Homo sapiens: one gene and its partners. The protein of the gene in region 1 interacts with the protein of each later gene in a biochemical or structural test. Each region holds a gene or a part of one and is shown in the gene's direction. Other genes may lie near its edges.

Evidence for each region. The genes of interacting proteins can lie anywhere in the genome.
Region 2: of the proteins of PDGFRB (region 1) and PTPRC, one has a biochemical effect on the other in vitro, tested with the Homo sapiens proteins (one large-scale study listed by IntAct).
Region 3: the proteins of PDGFRB (region 1) and FYN form a complex in vitro, tested with the Homo sapiens proteins (one study listed by BioGRID).
Region 4: of the proteins of PDGFRB (region 1) and PTPRK, one has a biochemical effect on the other in vitro, tested with the Homo sapiens proteins (one large-scale study listed by IntAct).

What each region holds. Positions count from the first base shown.
Region 1 is NC_000005.10:150,148,737-150,154,056, reverse strand, and holds part of PDGFRB (platelet-derived growth factor receptor beta isoform 1 precursor), read left to right. Parts: intron 1-99; exon of another isoform or gene 100-1,718; intron 1,719-5,320. UniProt on the Homo sapiens protein: Tyrosine-protein kinase that acts as a cell-surface receptor for homodimeric PDGFB and PDGFD and for heterodimers formed by PDGFA and PDGFB, and plays an essential role in the regulation of embryonic development, cell proliferation, survival, differentiation, chemotaxis and migration.
Region 2 is NC_000001.11:198,745,799-198,751,118, forward strand, and holds part of PTPRC (receptor-type tyrosine-protein phosphatase C isoform 1 precursor), read left to right. Parts: intron 1-2,310; coding exon 2,311-2,401; intron 2,402-3,617; coding exon 3,618-3,751; intron 3,752-4,693; coding exon 4,694-4,828; intron 4,829-5,320. UniProt on the Homo sapiens protein: Protein tyrosine-protein phosphatase required for T-cell activation through the antigen receptor. Acts as a positive regulator of T-cell coactivation upon binding to DPP4.
Region 3 is NC_000006.12:111,694,874-111,700,193, reverse strand, and holds part of FYN (tyrosine-protein kinase Fyn), read left to right. Parts: coding exon 1-90; intron 91-523; coding exon of another isoform or gene 524-679; intron 680-3,737; coding exon 3,738-3,917; intron 3,918-5,320. UniProt on the Homo sapiens protein: Non-receptor tyrosine-protein kinase that plays a role in many biological processes including regulation of cell growth and survival, cell adhesion, integrin-mediated signaling, cytoskeletal remodeling, cell motility, immune response and axon guidance.
Region 4 is NC_000006.12:127,981,521-127,986,840, reverse strand, and holds part of PTPRK (receptor-type tyrosine-protein phosphatase kappa isoform b precursor), read left to right. Parts: intron 1-965; coding exon 966-1,120; intron 1,121-3,463; coding exon 3,464-3,599; intron 3,600-3,860; coding exon 3,861-4,010; intron 4,011-5,320. UniProt on the Homo sapiens protein: Regulation of processes involving cell contact and adhesion such as growth control, tumor invasion, and metastasis. Negative regulator of EGFR signaling pathway. Forms complexes with beta-catenin and gamma-catenin/plakoglobin.

The sequences.
Region 1 (5,320 bases):
GTTCATCAGAGATTGTTCAGGCCCCAGCAGTCAGAACTGAGGCCGCACTTTCTGCTGGGGAAAGGTTTAAGGTTTCCCCATCCTGTGCTCTTCCCCCAGTGCCCAGCCCTGGATAGGCAGTGCGGCTGAAAAAATGTCCTGGTGAAAGGGAGGAGGAGCTCACTGAAGACCTTCTGCTCCCAAGTGTGAGACTAGAACCCAGGCCTCCAGCCTTCTCACAGGTGCCCTTCCAGGACATCGTGTGGCTACTCCAGGCAGCATTCCTCCATTGCAAGCAGGGAGGAGTATCTCTGCTTCCCTCTGTGACCTCCCAATTGCACAGAGGCCTCTAGTGACAAGTTCTGAAGTCATGCAGTCCTCCCCTGTCTCCAAGCAGGAGACCCTGAATCCACAGCCTTCAGGGACATACAGTCCCTGAACACCTACCTCATGCAGGCATAGAGCCTGGTACTTCACACACCTTGGAGTCCTCATGGCAAGTTTTTGAAATCAGTGTTATTACCTACTTTTTGTAGATGAGGAAGCTGAGATCTGGAGAGGCTAAGTGACTTTCCCAGGGCCATACGGTGAGTTAAGGTGGTGTTTAGGCTGAAGTCTGCCTGACTCTAAAGGCTTACCTCGTGCTCCCCGGGAAGCTCCCAGTCAGAGGGAAGAATCTCCATCCTCCTGCAGAGCCTGCTCCTGGCTTCAGCACCTTCCCCAGCAGAAAGTGCAGCCTCAGGTCTGACTGCTCCAAGGTCTGCCCGGGCCCTGGCTTGGTCTTGAGAGAGGAAAGAGACCATCTGGTCAGCACCCTCCTCCCAGACAGCAGTTATCAGCAGCCCCCCTCCTCTGCGGGAAGAAGAGCTGGGACTTATAATTGCCCACACATGTGGGGCAGGCAGTGGAAAGCACCGTGGATCCAGAGTCAGGAGACCCAGTGCTTGCCCTGGCTTGATTTAAATCCACCGTGTGGCCAACCTCAGACCCCCCACATCCCATCTCTGGGCTCCTTCCGCAGCTGGGAGGCAGTGAGCGCTGTGGGTAACCAGCACCAGGCTTGGGCATCAGATGACTATGCATTGACCCCGAGTCAGTTTCTGGCTGACTGTGTGACCCCGGGGCAGCACCTTGCCTCTCTGGGCCTCAATCTCCTTCTCTGTGAGCAGCAGGACCGTGTGTGGGCTCCATGAGACAACAGCATTGGCAAGGTGCTTACCACAGTTCCTGCACTTCACAGCTGGACCTCTGGCCACTGGCTGAGAGAACCACTGCTCTCCTGGCCTCCTGCATTGGAACACTTGGCTGTGAAATTAATCTGCAACCTGCAAAAGGCTCTGCCCACAGAAGGGACCTGGACACCATGTATGTTCCAAAGATCCGTGTCCATCCTCCAGGCACAGGCCACAGTCTGACTCTGAGACCAGCTGCCTTCTAGGCTAAAGGAGGGTGCTCTGGGCATTGGCTCAGAACAGGCTGCTGCTGAATGCAGTGGGAAGGGAGAAAGGGATGAAAAGGTCTTCTGAAATGCCCACCCATTTCTTGCATTTGATTCAGAACCCAGTGGGCAGTGGGTTCTTGGAATGGGAATCTTTTTGGTGCCCCCTGTCTTCTGACCCAGAGCGTTAGGAGGGAAGGGAAGGGGTGTTGGGCCCCTTCCCAGGGTCAGGGCTTGTAGCACCTCAGCTGGGAAGCAGTGTGAGCATGATGATATAACAGGAACCAACTCGTTCTTAGCACTTTCTGTGTCTACTTCAATTGTGCTTTACATCTGTTACCTCAAAGTTGCTGCTGTATTCCTCAGCACTTGGAACATGCTGGGCATTCAGGACATTCTTAGTAAATATTTACTGGATTAATTTAACCATCGAGGCTGGGCACGGTGGCTCACACATGTAATCCCAGCACTTTGGGAGGCCGAGGCGGGTGGATCACCCGAGGTCTGGAGTTTGAGACCAGCCTGGCCAACATGGTGAAACCCTGTCTCTACTAAAAATACAAAAATTAGCCAGACGTGGTGGTGCGCACCTGTATCCCAGCTACTCAGGAGGCTGAGGCACTAGAATTGCTTGAATCCAGGAGGCGGAGATTGCAGTGAGCCTAAGCGACAGGGCAAGACTGTCTCAAAAAAAATAAATAAATAAATAAATAAACCGTCACAGCAACCTCAAAATTAGATATATAAACTCTCCCCACTTTTTTTTTTTTTTTTTTTTGAGATGGAGTCTCACTCTGTTGCCCAGGCTGGAGTGCAATGGTATGATCTTGGCTCACCGCAACCTCCGCTTCCCAAGCTCAAGTGATTCTCCTGCCTCAGCCTCCCAAGTAGCTGGGATTACAGGCGTGTGCGCCACCATGCCCAGCTAATTTTTATATTTTTAGTACAGATGGGGTTTCACCGTGTTGGCCAGGCTGGTCTCGAACTACCTGACCTCAAGTGATCCGCCTGCCTCAGACTCCCAAAGTGCTGGGATTACAGGCGTGAGCCACCGCACCCAGCTAAACTCTCCCCATTTTACAGGTGAGAAAGTGCGCAGAGTCAGTTGCCTAAAGTCCCACAGCTCGGAAGTGGCGGAGCTGGGATTTGCACCTGGGTGTTTCTGACTCCAGATCCCCTTGATGAGAGGCTGGATGGGGCCTGGGATGCCCCTGGGGATCCAGTGTAAACCCTGAGAATGTGCCTCAGCTGTGGGGGCCCTCAGCATTCCAGAGGTAGTCATCAGACCCTAGAACCCTATGGGACTGTGCACAGATCGTTCCCTTCTGGGGCCTCAGTTTTCCCATCAGTCAAACGAGGAGGTTGACCCAGATGATGGTAAATCTTTCTTCCAGCCCTAAAACAATTTCAGGATTCCAAGCCATGCCAGCCCAGATTGGCAGCTGCACAAGCCTTGCTGTGTACTCAGGGATCATGCATATTTAATTTCACAATGAAAGGGTTTTTTTCTTACCCTTTTTCTACACATTACAGAAAGAGGTCAGGATCGATGACCACTAATGGAAAACTTTAACCTGCAATAACAATGAGGAACTTTCTGACAATTAGTGTGGCCCCTTAACGTGCTCAGTTTCTTGAGGAGCTCAGAGGGCTCCTACAGTTCCCACATGCCCATTTTCCTGAGATACTGAGCAGGGAGGGTCGGGGAGGAAGGCCCACTAGGGGCTGTGTGTGGATGCTGTAACCCTTTAGGTCTCTTCCAGTGCTGCGTTTTCAAACCTCATATGCTCTAATTTCAAGAGGAAGCAAGGCTTTGGCCCAGATGAGTGATGGGATCCAGAGGTGAGGGGGGGAATGGACACAGGGACCTACCTCTGGTGGGAGTGGGTGTGAAATTCCCATGCTTGTTGCTTCCAGTGTGGAAGCCCACTTCACATCCCTCCTGAGCCCTCAGGCCCAGATCCTCAGGATAAAGTCTTCCTGAACCTCCAAGCCTTAGCCCCAGAGCCCACCCTGCCCCCGCCCCCTACATCCACCAGATGCTTCCTGGGGTAGCCCACCCCCAGCCTGGTGCAGGAGGCTGAAAATCAAAGTGTACTGCTTTAACCGCATTAAAATCCCCTCCTCTCCTCAATTCAGATCAGGGCTATTTGATGTCTCAGGTGCCTGAAACCTTTTATCTGCCAGAGGTACCAGCTTCTCCGCCCTGTGATGGAGAGGGCTGTCCCTTGGGAGGGTCAGGGGGTCTGAAAGTTCCTGAATGTCAGAGATGAAAAGGACTTTTGGGGGTCACCTGATCCAACTGCTTTATTGTATGGATGGGAACTAAGGTCCAGAGAGGGGAAGGGTTGCACCTAAGGTCCGTACAGATCATTGGTGATGACGCTGAGCCTGGGACCTGGGCTCGCCTTTGTTCCACCACAGGTGCTGGGTCTTTACCATCTCTCTGAAGGCCTGGAGAGACCCAGCTCCACCTCTGTGGTTCAGGGCTCAGCCTCCAGGTCTGTCTGGGCTATGGGCTGAAAAGGAGCAAAGCCGTCCCAACAAGAAATGGGAATCTTCCTGGGTGGTTTGCTGGACCCCCGAGCTTTTGGCCATACCACTTCTTCATTCTAATCATAGTTTCCTCTTATAATAAAGTGGGGAGAAGCCAAGGGAGAAGTTTAGTGGCCCCCAGAGGTCCATCCAGCTCTGCCCTTAGCCCCTGAGAGTTCCTACCATGCTTCTTGTGACTGTTTTGCCACATCCTCATTGCTGCTGCTCTGTTACCTTCCCTTCTGAGAAGTGGAAACCCAAGGGCAGTGACACCACCAGCTTCTTCACTTCTGAGGCTGAGCCTCAGTGGTTATAGGGTGGGGCAGGGTTTCCAGTTAGCCTTAGAGGGGTAGGGCTCAGCTTTCTAAACATGTCACAGAAGCCCTGGCCCCTCCTGGCCCAGAGCATTGAAGGTAAAGGTGCAGGTTTGACCTGGTGGACTGTGGGTGGCTCCCATCTCACCTGTATTTGTGTCCTTATCAGTGTCCAACCCAGGGCCTATCTGCTGAATGGATAGTGAAATAATCACTAGATAAATAAATGCATGTAGAGATGCATAAATGGATTGGTGGGTGGGTGGATGGATGGATGGATGGATGGATAAATCGATGGAGACAGACAGATGGCCTCCCCTTTAGTCCAGGGCACAGAGATGGCTTCATGAGTACTCATCCTCCTGAGGGCCCCATGCTTAGAAGGGCCTATGTTTGGTTTAATGCTCTGCAGTCATCATTTTGAAATTGTTAATAATTTTTAACAAAGAGCCCTGCATTTCCATTTTGTGCTTGCCCCACAAATTATGTAGCTTGTCCTGCCAGGGAGTTCAGGCTGAGTTTGGGACGGCTTCATCCCCAACACTGGCCTTGCAGCCTCCACTGTCCCCATCCTAATCCACAGCCTCCCACTAAATGCCAGCCTGCTGGTGTCATCCTCCTGCATGGAGGCCCCCTCCCCACAGTGCCTGGAGTTACAGCATTGCCCTGCCAAGCCAGCAGCTACTACCCGCCATCACTATCAACACCTTGAAAAGTTGGTGGTCCAGAGAAAATCCTCACACAGCACCGCAGACCTTTCCTGAAGTCTCCCTGCCTCCTTCCCTGGCCTCCTGCTGCCTCCTTCCCAGGCCATCACCTACCTGTTTGCTGAAGAGCCCCAGTTTCTAGCCCAACAGATCTCTCCCTGCCATTTCTCCCAGATGCCTTTCATCTCTCACAGAGCCCTGGCCATACCTTTCCCTGGCATCATCTGCCAAAAAACTCAAGAAACCCTGGAGGCCTAGCTCAAGGCCACCTCCCTCAGGAAGCCATACCCGCTCTCCCCACTGGAGTAATCATATACTGTTGTTAGTCACCATTTACTGGGCACCTA
Region 2 (5,320 bases), on another chromosome or scaffold:
GAGGTGGAAAATAAAAAGCAAATTGGCCACATGAGGGAGGTGAGAGAAAGTAGTAAGGATAATAAGTTGGAGACTTTGATAGAATTACAGATTGCTAGGTTGAACATATCAGAATAAATGACTAGGAATAATAGGGGTAATTTTCAATAGCACAGATAGTTGAACTTATGATTTTAGAGGTGATGTAATATTTGGAATGAAACCTACAAAGGTGGAATGATGAAAGTGGATGACTGGGAAGTGGAGGGAAAGTCATGGGAGGTGAAGAAGCTAAGAAATGAAGAGACTAGAGTCTTGGATAGATTATTCTTGTCAATGTTGAATTAACCAAAAATGATGACAGACCTTGGAAAGAAGAGAATATACTTAGCCAAGCCTAAAACTAAATGAGGTGGAGTGATTCAGAAATCAATACCTGACACTTCCCAGTGAAGCCGGTGGATAGAAGCTAGTATAGTATGATGGCAGGAATATCAAAGTGCTTGGTTGATTTGAAAGCAAATGAGTAGAAATGGTTTGCAAGTAGAATCAGGGATCAAGGAGAACACGTATCTTTTCTTGAAGCTGTGAGGTAAATGGGGTGTGAGGAGGAAAGTCAACTTTTTCTTAAAAGGGCTGCTGAGTTATTGGTGGTGTCCTTAGCTGACATCCAGGTTTTAATTGGTGGAAAGAAAAAAAAAAGGGTGAAGTGACTGTTGGGAGAAGATGATTAAGATAAATGGGAGTTCACAGATGACAGACGATGGGCATCAGAGGGCAGGGAGGAAGGCACTGATGGGTTAGATGTAAGAGACTGGGTTGTATCTGAGGATACAAATAACCATTCAGGAATAAAAATCTGGGGAATGTGGATGCACTGGGAAGCTTAGACTTGTGATGGCAAGTGAAACAGGTAGAGATTTAAGAGTGACAGATCCTTTGTGTCTTAGATGAAGGTGAGCCATTAATTCCACCTATAATCCTGAGTATTGCTACAGGGCATAGGCTGCCTCGGTGACTACACTCACAAGAGCACAAGGTGTTGTAACAGTTTCCAAAACATCTGGTCCTTCATGCAGCTCATGGTGGTGTTCAAGTGGCCTAAAATTCAGTGATGATATTTTCTTTCACTCAATTACGTAGCAAAGAATGAGGTTTGAAACAGGGTGCCATAATTAGTTTGAATGAGGGTACTATGCTGAAAAAATATATGTCTATATACACACACGTATCTACATGCGTGTGTGTGTATATAAAATCTTACCGAATTGTACATGAGGAGCCTTCTCAGTTTCAGTTATTTGTAACATTATCTATTATCATTAAATATTATTCACTTGACAAATACTTATTTAAGGACTAGTGGAAAGACTGTAGGCAGGGGTGTCTTCCAGAAGAAATTGGTATTTAAACTGATACCTAGAGGGTAAGAAAAGTTATTAGAGCAACCAAAAGGGGAAAGGGTAGTTCAAGCAAGAAAAAAAAAAAAAAGTGTTTATGTGCCAAGAGTTGAAGAACAGCTTGGCCCTTCCAAGAATTGAGGAAGCTGGTTTGGTAGAAGTATTGAGGGACCCAGTAAGGTGTAAGGCTGGAGAAACAGTCAGGGGCGTATCAATAAAGACTTTTTATGCTATTTTGAGGAGGTTTGTTGTCCTCTTATAGTGATGGAAAGCTGTTCATCTTCAGAAGAGCATCTTCTGTTTTGTGTTTTAGAAGGATTAGAGCAGGCGAGATTGAAGACAAAGAGGCCAGTTAGGAAATTGTTGATGTTTTACAAGCGAGAAATGAAGGCAGACTGGATTAAGTAGGAAGAAAGAAAACTAAAAGGATTTGTGTATAGAAATGATGGATCTTTTCTGACTAATTAGGAACTGTGGGTGAGAGGAAAGCAATCTGGAAGGTGTAAACAAATTAAGAATGAACTTTCAAAACATGTGCCAAGTCTCCTAAGAATGTGTTGTCTCCAAAGTTTATTTCTGATCATTTAAAATAACTTACCATTGCTTTTGCAATATAGATCAACATCGGTCTAGTGGTTTCAATTTATATAAGAACAAACTATATTATTTTTCTATCAAGCAGCTCTGAAGAAGGAGACATAGTCTGTTACATATATATCTTTAGTGCATACTAGCCCTGTCAAAAGGACTAAATGCCTGAGCAATTTAAAGAAAAAAAATCAGAGGCAAACCGAAAAATTATGGCCTATAGGGAGCATATGCAAATTTCACAAAAATTAATGAAATGCTTTTCCTTAGGGAGCATCTTATGATGCAATAAGCCAATATTTACATTTTAAAGGAGTTTTTCTGTTTTTTTTTTTTTTTTCAGAGACTTCCTTCATATAGGAGCTGGAGGACACAGCACATTGGAAATCAAGAAGAAAATAAAAGTAAAAACAGGAATTCTAATGTCATCCCATGTATGTAGTTTATTTTTTTATTTTTTGTATCAGATAAAGTTAAGCTCTTTTGGATTTGTTTAATGTGGGACACACAGTCATATAAATTATCTTGAAGCAAGTTTTCAACATTTGGTTGTTAATAGGGAAGAAGTTACTAGGTATTAAAATACTAGTTATTGCAAGAACTTATAATCCTGAACATTTACAATGGGCTTTGGAGGGTAGACTGTATTCAGTGTTTTCTTTTTACCAATTATTTCAGAAATGGGTTGTCATAAAAGAGAAATATATAAAGCTGGGAGAAAAAAGAGCAAGTCTCTTTTACCCATTTTCTTTCATTTTTAGTTTATTTCAGTTATTTACTCCAGGGTAATTGACAAATAGTAAAAATTACATCCATTTGTTCTCTATATGTTTCCTTTTTATCCCTTATAACTGGGAGGTTGAAAGTAAGGGGAAAATACTCTATAAATTCTAAATCTTCAAATTTAACAGATCAAAATATGCACAGTTTCAATACTTGAATTCTACTATTTAAGCATATTAAAATGATCACATATGGTAATTTTATTCAGCTGCATAAACTAAAATTAGCATGGATAAAATATAACACAAGTTGATAAATTAGATGACCAAATAAATCAGATCAGTGCATGGTTGACCTAGTTAATTTTCATAGGAGTCCTTATGAATGTAGTTTAAAATATGGAATTGATGGTGATATGGTTAATCAAATCATTTGACCAAGTTATTATAAATTATAGAAATTAAGAAACAGTGAGAAATTATAGGTCAAATAATTTTCTGGGCTAAATAATTAATCAAAGCTACCCATATAAGATTGTTAATTTAATATTACTGGAGTATAATTGAGGGAAAAAATCTACGCTATGTATTTTGTAAACTTATATCAAGCAGAATTATAATAGTCCATGGGAAATTAAAGTATATGTATCAAAGATTAAATAATCATATATAATGATATGATATCTCTTTGTTGTTTGACATGGAATTATGTTCCATGTTTTTTCCTGGAATCCTTTTTCTTAGACTTTTGTTGTATAATTTGTTTATCGACAAGTACTGAATTTTATATAGGATCTTATTTCATGTAGATCAGTAAGTTTTCATAATACAATCTGTCCCTTTTTAAATACTTTCAAATTTCCACATGACAATGAAGAAGAAATTTAATTTTTTCAAGGAAGACTTACTACTGATTTATTTCACATAGATGACTATAACAGAGTGCCACTTAAACATGAGCTGGAAATGAGTAAAGAGAGTGAGCATGATTCAGATGAATCCTCTGATGATGACAGTGATTCAGAGGAACCAAGCAAATACATCAATGCATCTTTTATAATGGTAGGTACTTAAATTGCCAAAACCCAAGATCCAAACATTTTAAAATAATATCTATGTTATTAGGGCCATTCATTAAGCGATTTTATAAAAGAATAATGAGCTTGGTCATAACTACATATAGATTGACATGAGAGTTTCAATTTCAATGCTACAATTTAACTTAATGAAAGATTTAAAAATACTATAACCTAATAACCTGAGACAAAATAAGATAATGCTATTGGTTATATTTTATGACAAATATAGCTATAATCACATCAATTTTAAAAATAGTAAAATTTGAGCAAATACAAGTATTTGAAAATGTTTATACATACTCAGATACCCAAATTGTAGGCAATGACAAATTTGTATATTTGTATGGTTAGAAACTTTTCATTCAGATAAACTGAATTATTAGGTGAGTCTGTGTCATATCCCCCCACTTTTTTAATTAACTGAGAATTCAAACAATGAAACTTTAGTCATTTATTAAATATTTATTATTTATACACTGTTGGATTTACTTATTTTCCAAAGTTTCCTAAAGCACACATTCATAGAATATTAGTTTAATTAGGAAATATAATAAGAATGTAAAGACACTAATTAAAATTAGTATAGACACGATGAAGGTAATTTGAAATGCTTAAGTAATTCCTTTTTACAATCACATTAACCTTTATAGAGAAACAAAAATGTGTGTCTTTTGTGGAAAGGAAAATTTGTTTCGCAAGATATGTTGTAATCTTGATTTCACATTATTAGCTAAGAATTACTATTATCTGTATAATTATTTTACATATAGCTATTACATTGTTTCTTGTAAGAAACATAAGAATATTACTATTTGTATGTAACAGCATTGATATCAAACTGACTATATTTCCAAATGGTTACTTTAAGAATCTACTGAGCTCTCTTCTGTAGTAACGAAGTCCCACCCTTTTTTTGTCTAAAAAGAGCTACTGGAAACCTGAAGTGATGATTGCTGCTCAGGGACCACTGAAGGAGACCATTGGTGACTTTTGGCAGATGATCTTCCAAAGAAAAGTCAAAGTTATTGTTATGCTGACAGAACTGAAACATGGAGACCAGGTTTGTACTTTTGAGGATTTTCTTTTAAGCCTTTCTGTCATAAAACGTCATTCTCTAGTCTTGGATTGCTTGCTTCATCGCCATACCCACGTCTTTTTTTATCCCTCCATCACATAATTCTGTCTGCTCAGTCTTACCCCTTTCACCCTGGTGTTGGCCTCCATCAGCTGTGTCTGGATTCTGACAGTCTCTCCTGTTTGTCCCCTCCAGTCTTGCATGCTGCTCACAGATTAGCCAGGATGCAGCAATGTCAGCGTCACAGCAAATAACAGCTACATTTTCACGCTGTTTTCCTCATTTTCTCAAGATAAAAGCCAAGATCTTTTTGTGATATCCAGCACCCTGGACAATCACCCCCTCATGTGTCTTTCATCTTCCTCCCATTTTTATGTTTTCCATCCTCTCCACTCTGGACAAGCAGGTTTCATGCCCAAGCCTAAACACGCCATTTGCATTGTCATCACTGAGTCTAAACTTATTGATATTCCATGT
Region 3 (5,320 bases), on another chromosome or scaffold:
TCAAAACCAAAGATGTCTGGGAAATCCCTCGAGAATCCCTGCAGTTGATCAAGAGACTGGGAAATGGGCAGTTTGGGGAAGTATGGATGGGTATGCTGAGACTCAATTACTCTCTTATTAGCTTCCCCGTTTGGAAGATCCCAAACACCAAAGATGGAAGGTGAAAATAAAGACTGCGTGACCGGGAAGAAAGTTTGAATTACTAATAGTGGGGAATAATAATTTCAGTTTTGGTTTTAACATTCTGGAATTCCTAAAAAAAAAAAAAAAAAAAAAAAAAGATAGTAAGTGGGCAAAATTGGCAAATGGCTCAAGTTGTACTATTACATGACTCTCAATTCATAAACCAGCAAATGGTCCAAGGAATGTTCCAGCTGCCATAAAATATCTTGCTCTTCATTTCCAAAAGCAAATATTTGTTGAGTGTCATCCTAACGGGCAAGTCACCTTCCATCTTTCCTAGTGCATGCATAATTATGGATTATAAGGACTGTGTTTTCTTTATTAATTCCCTTTCCTGTAGAGAAAGCTGATGGTTTGTGTTTTAACTTAACTGTGATTGCATCGAGTTGTACCCCACAAACTTCTGGATTGGCTAAAGATGCTTGGGAAGTTGCACGTCGTTCGTTGTGTCTGGAGAAGAAGCTGGGTCAGGGGTGTTTCGCTGAAGTGTGGCTTGGTAAGGCAGAGGGCACATTTTGTTTTGGCTGCATCTCAAAGCCGATTAAAAGGATGGTTTTGAACAAAAATGCACACACAGCCGTTGGGACAAAGACACTTAACCTGGATAACTAGACGGGCACAGGCCATCCAGATTTTCAGAATATGCTGATACCTTGCTGTGCTCATCTGTCCTACTTCATGTGGTTAATTAAGGCACCCGCAGAACAGGAAACCAGTACACTATGAATCTGGTGTTTCCTCTTCCTAAGAAATGGGAAGGTAAGATACTGTATATGGGCAGCCATAAGAAAGACCATGGACGTTTTGCTCAATGGGCCTGGGTTTGAATCCTTACTAGCTAATTAACCACGAACAAGGGGCATATTTAACTCCTTTAAGCCTCAGTTTTTTCATCTGTAAAATTGGAATGATACCTTTTTGTTGTTGTTGAGACGGAGTCTTGCTCTATCACTAGGCTGGAGTGCAATGGCGCGATATTGGCTCACTGCAACCTCCACCTCCCAGGTTCGAGTGATTCTCCTGCCTCAGCCTCCCGAGTAGCTGGGATTACAGGTGCCTGCCACCACGCCCAGCTAATTTTTGTATTTTTAGTAGAGACGGAGTTTCACCATGTTGGCCAGAATGGTCTCGATCTCCTGACCTGGTGGTCTGCCAGCTTCATCCTCCCAAAGTGCTGGGATTACAGGCGTGAGCCACCACGCCCGGCTGGAATGATACTTATTTAAAGGATTATTTTTAGGATTACATGGGTTAATATGTTTAAAGTCCCTTGCAGATAGTAGATATTCAGTAGAGATACATACTTCTCTTTATTTGATTGTCATTGATAAGGCTGGCTGCACTGGGCCTTTGTAATTTCTTTTATAGCCCTTTTGGGTCAGTTACAGCTTTGCTTAGAAACAATTCATGGGTTTAGGCCCCACTCAAAAACATGTTTCAGTAAAACAATATTAATACTTATGGAATCCTCTATCTTCCTTCCTCAGAACTCATTAAAAACAATATCGATCAGTACCCTTTGCTACGTGTGGGTATAGATCTTTAGGTGTGGTCTGCATTAAAAGAGTTAATACAGGTGGCCGGGCACAGTGGCTCACACCTGTAATCCCAGCACTTTGGGAGGCCAAGGCAGGCAGATCACCTGAGGTCAGGAGTTTGAGACCAGCCTGACCAGCATGGAGAAACCCTGCCTCTACTAAAAATACAAAATTAGCCGGGCATGGTGGTGCATGCCTGTAATCCCAGCTACTCAGGAGGCTGAGGCAGGAGAATCACTTGAACCTGGGAGGTGGAGGTTGCGGTGAGCGGAGATCGCACCATTGCACCATTGCACTCCAGCCTGGGCAACAAAAGCGAAACTCCGTCTCAAGAAAAGAAAAAAAAAGAGTTAATACAGTTAAAGCACTTAAAACATAGCCCAGCAAATGATAAGTACTACAAAGATGTATGTAGGTATGTTAGGTGGATAAATAGGTAGTAGACAGACATACACATATATATGTATGAGTTAGCTAGTTTAATAAATCCACATTATTGTGTCCATCTCTCTCTGGACTTAATCTCAAGTATCGTAAAATATATGACCTCCTTCTTCCTCATTCACCCTCTAATAATAGAGGATTTTAGTCAAATTACTCACACAATCACAGAGAATTGGACCCTATTAGAAAATTTATTTTCAAATTTTACAAATATCAACTTTAAATCATTACATATACTGTTCACATTTTGTTTTCCAATAAACACAAGACAACATGCCCATCAGAATTGGGATGGATGTCTGTGTAATTGACGAAGTTTGTATTACAGAGGAAGATCTTAATGTATTTAGAATTTTGGGTGCTGACTCTTAAATAGCAAAGATCACTTATAAATTGTCAAATTTCCCATGAATGCTTAGTGGGCAGATATTTTATGAAGTTTAAATGAACTTTTCTTTAAGCCACTTGTTTTTTCATAATTTATATTTTGTAGGTTGCATGTTGTAATTGTATGAACCATGTCTTTAACAGGATAATAAGAACTCCAATTTACAGAATCCTTAAATTCCAAAGTCAGTTATATTAAATATAAAAATCTTAATTTAAACCAGTCTTCTTTTTCAAATAGAAAATAATCTAAATTAGCAGATTTCTTCCCCTTTATAAAGTTATTCTTAAGCATCATAGGTCTAATAATGGAATACACAAAGAACCTAGGTATGGTTTTGTTTTTTGAATGCTGGGGCTGAAAGAGACCCAAAAGATAATCCAGTTCCATTCCTATATTTTACAGATGAGGTAACTGAGGACAATCATAATCCAGGCCTTGCCTTCAGATTTGCTAGATTTTTTTTTAACATGCTAAATTTAAATATTTCTGTTCCCTCTCAGCTGCTGTTTAATTTCCCCTGTCTACCTACCTGACAGAAGCCATTGTTCTTGTGGCTAGCCATCAGTAAAGCTGAGGAAATTTGCCTTACCTTGTTGAAGTATTGGCAAGCAGACTGTGAGCTCCTTGCCAGTGCTTATCAGCATGCTTGGCACACCTGTGCAAGGACTCAGTCAAGTAACTTGTCCATTGCAGACATTGAAAGTCTAGAGGTAATTTCCAGACATCCTCATGTGGTGCCATATTTTTAAATGGCACACCCCATAAACTTAAATAATCTAATTTCTTCCATGCACACTGTACTCCCTAAGGGACAGCTATTAGATGGCCAGGCCTGTTCCAACCCCTGGACTTTCATCACTGTATGGTGCAGAGCTTTTGGTATAAATGTGTAATCATATGACTGAGCCAAAAAAAGAGAGAGTGGTAATATATCAAAATTTAAAAAAATTTTAATGAGTTATAAATCTTAATATAGCCATCTTAGCCATAACCACAAATAAACTCATTTTTTCTGTTAAAATACTTGACAGAGTCCTTGCAATTGAATGTCTTTGTTCAACAAAAACTGTATTAAGTGTTTTAAATTTAAAATCTAATCTTATGCAAATAGCTGGTGGTCAAAACCTTTTTCCATCAAAAGAAGATCTTTGGTTTGACTTCATATTCTGGGATGTTTGTAGGTACCTGGAATGGAAACACAAAAGTAGCCATAAAGACTCTTAAACCAGGCACAATGTCCCCCGAATCATTCCTTGAGGAAGCGCAGATCATGAAGAAGCTGAAGCACGACAAGCTGGTCCAGCTCTATGCAGTGGTGTCTGAGGAGCCCATCTACATCGTCACCGAGTATATGAACAAAGGTTGGGCAACACCTCTCCTGTCTCCAGCTCACAGTGCCTTAAGGGGTTGTTTAGGGGAGAGAAATGGAAGTTTCCTACTTGCTACTTTTCTAGTTTCTGCCTGGGTCAAGTATTCCCATTAGGAACCACCAGTTATGTGCTCGTTAATGAAAACATTTTTTAAAACAGACTAACCTTGCGTTTACCCCACCCCAAATCCTTATGAAATGCCAAATACTTTTTACATGTTATGTGTGTCAGAAATTCAAGCTCCTCTCCATAATTAAAACATTCATTTTTAATATCAGGGTGGTACGGAGGGTTATGATAGTTTGCTGTTATTTTGAATGTAGTAGCTTTTGTTACATTTCCTTTTTGCAGGGCTAAACAATTAATATCAGACACTGGTCTCTAAGCTAAGTTTAGTCTCCATCATTTCAACATCTTTTTTATTTCCAGCTCTCTTCTTAAACGTCAGGCGATGAAATTACATGCTTTCAGAGACCACATTTATTCTCACATTCTCTCCCCTACAACCCCTCTGTCTTCCTAATCAAACCAGCATTGTTAGGGATAAGGCCAGAGATCATTTTGTTTTGGAAAAATAGATGAACCAAACAAGAAACAGCCTTAAAAGGCAATACATTGTTTATCAGAGGATACCAGTGTAATTTTTCTTTTCCATGTACTTTCTTTTAAAATTTAATGGGAATTTTTTTTTCTGGCAAACGGTTTGTCCTTTGTATCCAGGGTTATTTTGTAAATAACTTTGTGATTAAAGCATAAAATATCACTGATGACCATCATAAGCCTCCAGCTTCTGCAAATGATTATCCCTGCTTTGGTGTTAGTTCTAAGCCTTCTTAGGCTGTGTTATAATAGTGGCTCTGAAGCTTCCAATGTTTCATTTCAGATGTCTGATTTAAGGCTTGGCTGGCTGTGATCTAATTAAGGGGAACCATCTGCCCCACCCATATTCTTCAGATTGTCTTTTCTTGATTCAAAATCTGTAAATAAGCTAAGCTAGTGAGTCTCAAACTTTACCTTGTATTATTAGAATCACCTGTAGGCCTTCTTAAAACCCAAGTTTCTGGACCCAACCTTCAAAGTTTCTGATTTACTCGATCTGGGATGGGACCTGAGAATTTGCATATCTAACAAGTTCCCTTGTGTTATTGTAGCTGCTGGTCCCAGGACCACAGTTTTGGACCACTCAGCTGGGCTGTATTTTCCCCACATCAATTCTTTGTGCAGGGGTGATTGGGGAATGGGATTGAAGAGGTGCAGTTCTTCATAGGTTCCTCTTTATGACATACAGGGAGATTGAGTCCCATTTCTTCTAGTTTTATCAAATATATGTTGTTATTCCTAGAAATGGAATTAATGCTGTTTGTTTTTAAAAGGTAACTGTTACTTCTCCATGC
Region 4 (5,320 bases), on another chromosome or scaffold:
TTGGTTTGTATAAGATTGAATCTAAAGATAAACTGTTTTTCTCAGTTTTGTTTATTTCATGTAATGTGTCTACCTTTTCTGATTGAACAAGTGAGATTGATAGTTCACAGATAGTTCACAGTAGAATTTGAATTATATAGATTATAGTGGGATTTTTTTTCCTTTTGCTACAAATGTGAGTTCTTAAAAATAAATTCGGCAATATTTCATCTATACCTTCCAAGCTGTGCTACCTCAGTCTACAGACTTCTTCTAAAAAAAGGAAGGAAAAAGCTTTGAAATGTGCATTTACAGGGTTCTCTTAAATTAACCCAATAGGAGAGCAGCACAACAGCAGATGCTTCACTTCTTTCATTTTGTATTTTTGTTACTATAAATAATACTGCGCTGAATTATTTCACAGAGCTAAGAAAAATAGTTTGCCCAAAGAACAGTTTAGCTGCCTGTATATTTTCACAAGCCAATCTAGAGCAGCACTGTCCTGGAAAATCCCTACATGCTATGCTTCAAAACCATTTTCAACATGGATAAGCAAGGCATTAAAATCTCTTTGTGAGGTGAGAAGCTGGAAAGTTGCTTTTATACACCACTTGAGAACTCAATGCATTGGGTCAATGGGGCAGCATTTTAGCTTTCCCATTTCCTTCTTTTCCCCTAATAATTTAATGTGTTGTCACTCCCAGCAAGAAACAAGCTGTCAAAGTAAATAAAATTTACCCAGACTTTTAGAACTGAGCAAGACTTATAATTTTCTTTCTTTGGCAGTTGTCTGACAATAAAGGTAAGCTCCTAGTCCATGTTAGGCCTTCATTTTATTATATTTTTTTTTTAAGAAAAGGCATAGTCTTTCGTAAAGGTTTTATTGTTATCATTGTCAGTTGGGTCTGTACCCATAATTGTGTTTAATGGCTTTATTTTGGCCATTAAAATGGCTTTTGAAAACATTTCTTTCCATCTTTGCACAGAGGGGGTACAATGAAATCCGTGAAGTTAAACAGTTCCATTTCACGGGCTGGCCTGACCATGGAGTGCCCTACCATGCTACAGGGCTGCTTTCCTTTATCCGGCGAGTCAAGTTATCAAACCCTCCCAGTGCTGGCCCCATCGTTGTACATTGCAGGTAAGTGGTGGTCCAAATGGTATTGACTGTATGCAATCAGCTTTTTTTAGAGTATCAAGACAAGGCTTTTGAGCACAAAAACTAATGTGTGCTTACGAAGTTCCAGCTTGCTTGTATTATAGATAAAGTAAAACAGCAATAAAATAAAAGTTGGCTGTAAGTAGTCTATAAAACAGGAACTTAAGAAATACATACATTCATCCTAATGCGTGTAGTGTTATCCACAATTTAAAGTATAGAAACTCTGCCTTTTAATGGCAACATCTGTGTTTTTTGTTTTTATCACTTTTGCAAATCCCATATTGTATAGAATGCTAGGTTGAAATAGACATTTCTTGCCAATCTAGAAAATTCCCAATAGAATTCCAGCTTTAAAACTAAATTTCAGACATACAGAGTTACTAAATGGCCTAAATTGCAAGGATTTGTGCTGCAAAACAGCTATTTAAAAATTTTTTTTAAAGAATTCACATTAGAGGACCTTGAAAACTGCATCAGTGAGATTCAGCAAATATATGCCAAAAAACACGAGCATTATATCCAGACTTTCTTCTGATTAGAAACTTCTCTTAAAACAAGCATTTAGAGATACTAAAAGCAAATTACATGGCCTCATTTTGAGGTGTGACCAGAAAAATAAGTACTGAATCTGAAAAGCGTTTCCTAAATGATGCTGCACACCATTCTCATACGCTCTTCCCTCCAAGCTACATAATAGGTTGTACCTAAGCATTTTTTGCTTTCTGAAAATCCAACCTATTCAGGATTTAAATAACCATGTATAAAAGAGGGGAAAAAAAGCAGAGAATGAAGTAAAGGTAAAACGTCCCATAGGATCAGATACTATGTACCCTGAAAACAAAAAAAACTTCCTTTCAATCCTCCTCATGAAATCTGATGTACTCTTAAATTACATTCCTGTCTCCAACTCTGGGAACAGTGATTGAGAAGATGGTAGGGGACAAAGATAAATAGAGATAGCCACAATATCTTTTGCTTAAATTTCTAAAAGAACAGTGAGTTTAAGAGAAGTGACCAAATCTGAATAACAAGGAAATAATGTTACTAGCCTATCTAAGCACTTAGAAAATGAGATAAATAGGTTTTCAACTTAAGAATTTCTTGATTTATCAGAGAGGTTTACTTTCTTATGAATTGCTTGCTTCAGAAATGCTCCAAGATTCTCAGATACTCTCTTGAAACAGAAGTGTCATTTTCCACCTACACTGAAGCATCTCTGGACTACAAAGTGAATTCCCCACTCCCCGCAAAAAATCCTTATTTTGTTTTCCCCATTGACTTCTATATATAAAATTGGAGAAACATTCCCCAGCTGCAAAATAATCACAGTATATTACAATTAAAGGACACAAAATATGGTGAGATAGAGGAATACATTTTAGTGTTCTGTACCACTGTAGGATGAGTCTGGTAAATGATAATGTTTAGTTTGAGAGAGCTAGAAGGAAGATACTGAATGTTCACAACATAAATGATACATGTTTGAGAGGACGCATATGCCAATCACCCTTTTCTGATCACTCTACATTATGTGTATTAAAATATCACTATGTACCCAAGAATATATACATTATTATTTGCCAATTAAAGACTAAAATATAATTTTTTAAAAGTATTTTTAAAAATTAACTTTAGAATTAAATACAGTAAGATAGCGGCTAGCCTTTTGATTTGCTGGGAATCATATTCTACACCTAATAATTCATTTTCATTTCTCTTCAGATCATGATTCAAATAGTCTTTACACTGTTACTCTCCTCCCCTTTGATAACCGTCATTCTCTTGCCCACCCCCACCATTTGCATTTCCTGTGAAGCGTGGCTCCTCAGATTTCCCGTTTAAAGTTTTGGGAATTAATTTTCTTTTGCCTTGGTATTTACAAGAGGTGAAGACAGTGAGTGAGCCAACATTCTCACATTGTTGCCAGAGGACACACAACTAGATGAATCTAAAAATATTCAATCTTGAGTTAAATTTTGAAGCGTGAATCTGCCACTTGATCAATTCTATGAACTTGAAATTATGTGTATTAAATTTACATAAAATGAAAATTGTGAGAGAGGTGTGGAACTTAAACAGTGTTATTTTCAATTTGAAAATAATTTAGAACTCTTGTTCCAATCTTTAGTTTATACCAAAGCAGATACTCTGCATGAAGCTATTTGTACATTAATAAGCTTTTACACAGCAGGGACAAGTGCTGTGCCTTGCAGTTTGTTAAATCAATTTGATTCTACCTATCTGACAGTGGAAAAAGTCCTTATTTAAGGTTATGAAGACTAACATGCTTCTTACAATTCATTAAATTTAATTGTTTTTCAGTGCTGGTGCTGGACGAACTGGCTGCTACATTGTGATTGACATCATGCTAGACATGGCTGAAAGAGAGGGTGTTGTTGATATTTACAATTGTGTCAAAGCCTTAAGATCTCGGCGTATTAATATGGTCCAGACAGAGGTATGTAGATTTACCTGTAGTGGACTTTTTTTTATTTTTTATTTTTTTTGCAAACAAAGAGTAGATGTCTCTCATATATACTCTACTCAACCGAAAGAGATGTTTTTCATGTGTAATCAATATTAGCTGAGTCATATAGAAAAATATTGGTGTTTTAATTCATATTTCCATATAGAGAAAATTTTCTGTATTTCCTAACTTTGATGACAGAAAAGTGATACTAAAACTAGTACAAAATTTTCTTTTTCATTCTTTTGGTAGGAACAGTACATTTTTATTCATGATGCCATTTTAGAAGCCTGCTTATGTGGAGAAACTGCCATACCTGTCTGTGAATTTAAAGCTGCATATTTTGATATGATTAGAATAGACTCCCAGACTAACTCTTCACATCTCAAGGATGAATTTCAGGTATTAACTATTTCTAAAACCTCTTTTGTGACTTACTACAATTTGTTCTGGGCGCTAGGAATCCTTTCAAGGAAGGTCTTTCAAGTCAAATTTATAACCTTTGATCCTGTTTTAAATACAATACGTATCTCTTTCATTATACATATTATATAGTCACTTTTCTATTGATGAATTTATATCTACTATATCCAAAATGACAAATAAGTTCAGACTTAGGGAAGAGCAAAGGGGAAAGGTATCATAAAAGTCAAAAATTAGGCCAGGCGCAGTGGCTCATGCCTGCAATCCCAGCACTTTGGGAGGCCGAGGCGGGTGGATCACGAGGTCAGGAGATCGAGACCATCCTGGCTAACACGGTGAAACCCCGTCTCTACTAAAAAGACAAAAAAAATTAGCCAGGCATGGTGGCGGGTGCCTGTAGTCCCAGCTACTCGGGAGGCTGAGGCAGGAGAATGGCGTGAACCTGGCAGGCGGAGCTTGCAGTGAGCCGAGATTGCACCACTGCACTCCAGCATGGGCAACAGAGCGAGACTCCGTCTCAGAAAAAAAAAAGAAATAATAACAAGTCAAAATGAGTGGTGATTTGTGTGTATTTAGTGTGTATTTATAGCCTTTTTTTCATGCAGTCATACAGATTTTGACCTGGGTCACTCACAATGTGATGAGATCAAGCACATTAATTATAACTGAGTCTGGGTTCAGTGGCAGCTCACACCTATAATCCTAGCACTTTGGGATGCCAAGGCAGGCAGATCTTGAGGTCAGCAGTTCAAGACCAGCCTGGCCAACATGGCAAAACCTCATCTCTACAAAAAATATAAAAAATAGCCGGGTGTGGTGGTGCATGCCTGTAGTCCCAGCTACTCAGGAGGTTGAGATGGGAGGATTGCTTGACCCTGGAAGTTTGCTTAACCCTGGAAGGCTGTGGTGAGCCAAGATATTGCCACTGCACTCCAACCTGGGCAACAGAGTAAGACCCTGTCTCAAAAATAATAATAGTAATAATAATAATAAATGAAGTTTGTAGTACATGTTATTTCAAAATAGCCCTAAATGTTTTCACTGCCCTTAAAACACCCCTGAAGGTGGGTGAAAATAAAATCAAGGGCAGAGACCAAATTCTTTGATTGTTGATCCAGTGCTCTTTCCAACATGCCATAGCTTATCTTCAAATATGGCAAGCCCAGATGTTACTACAAATGATACCGTTTCCCAGTGTGATGAAGGGTCATTATCATAATGGACTGCCCGATTGCATTTTCTTTGGTTAAGGCAATGCATTTTGCAGGTAGCAGTGTTGTTTAGCGTAC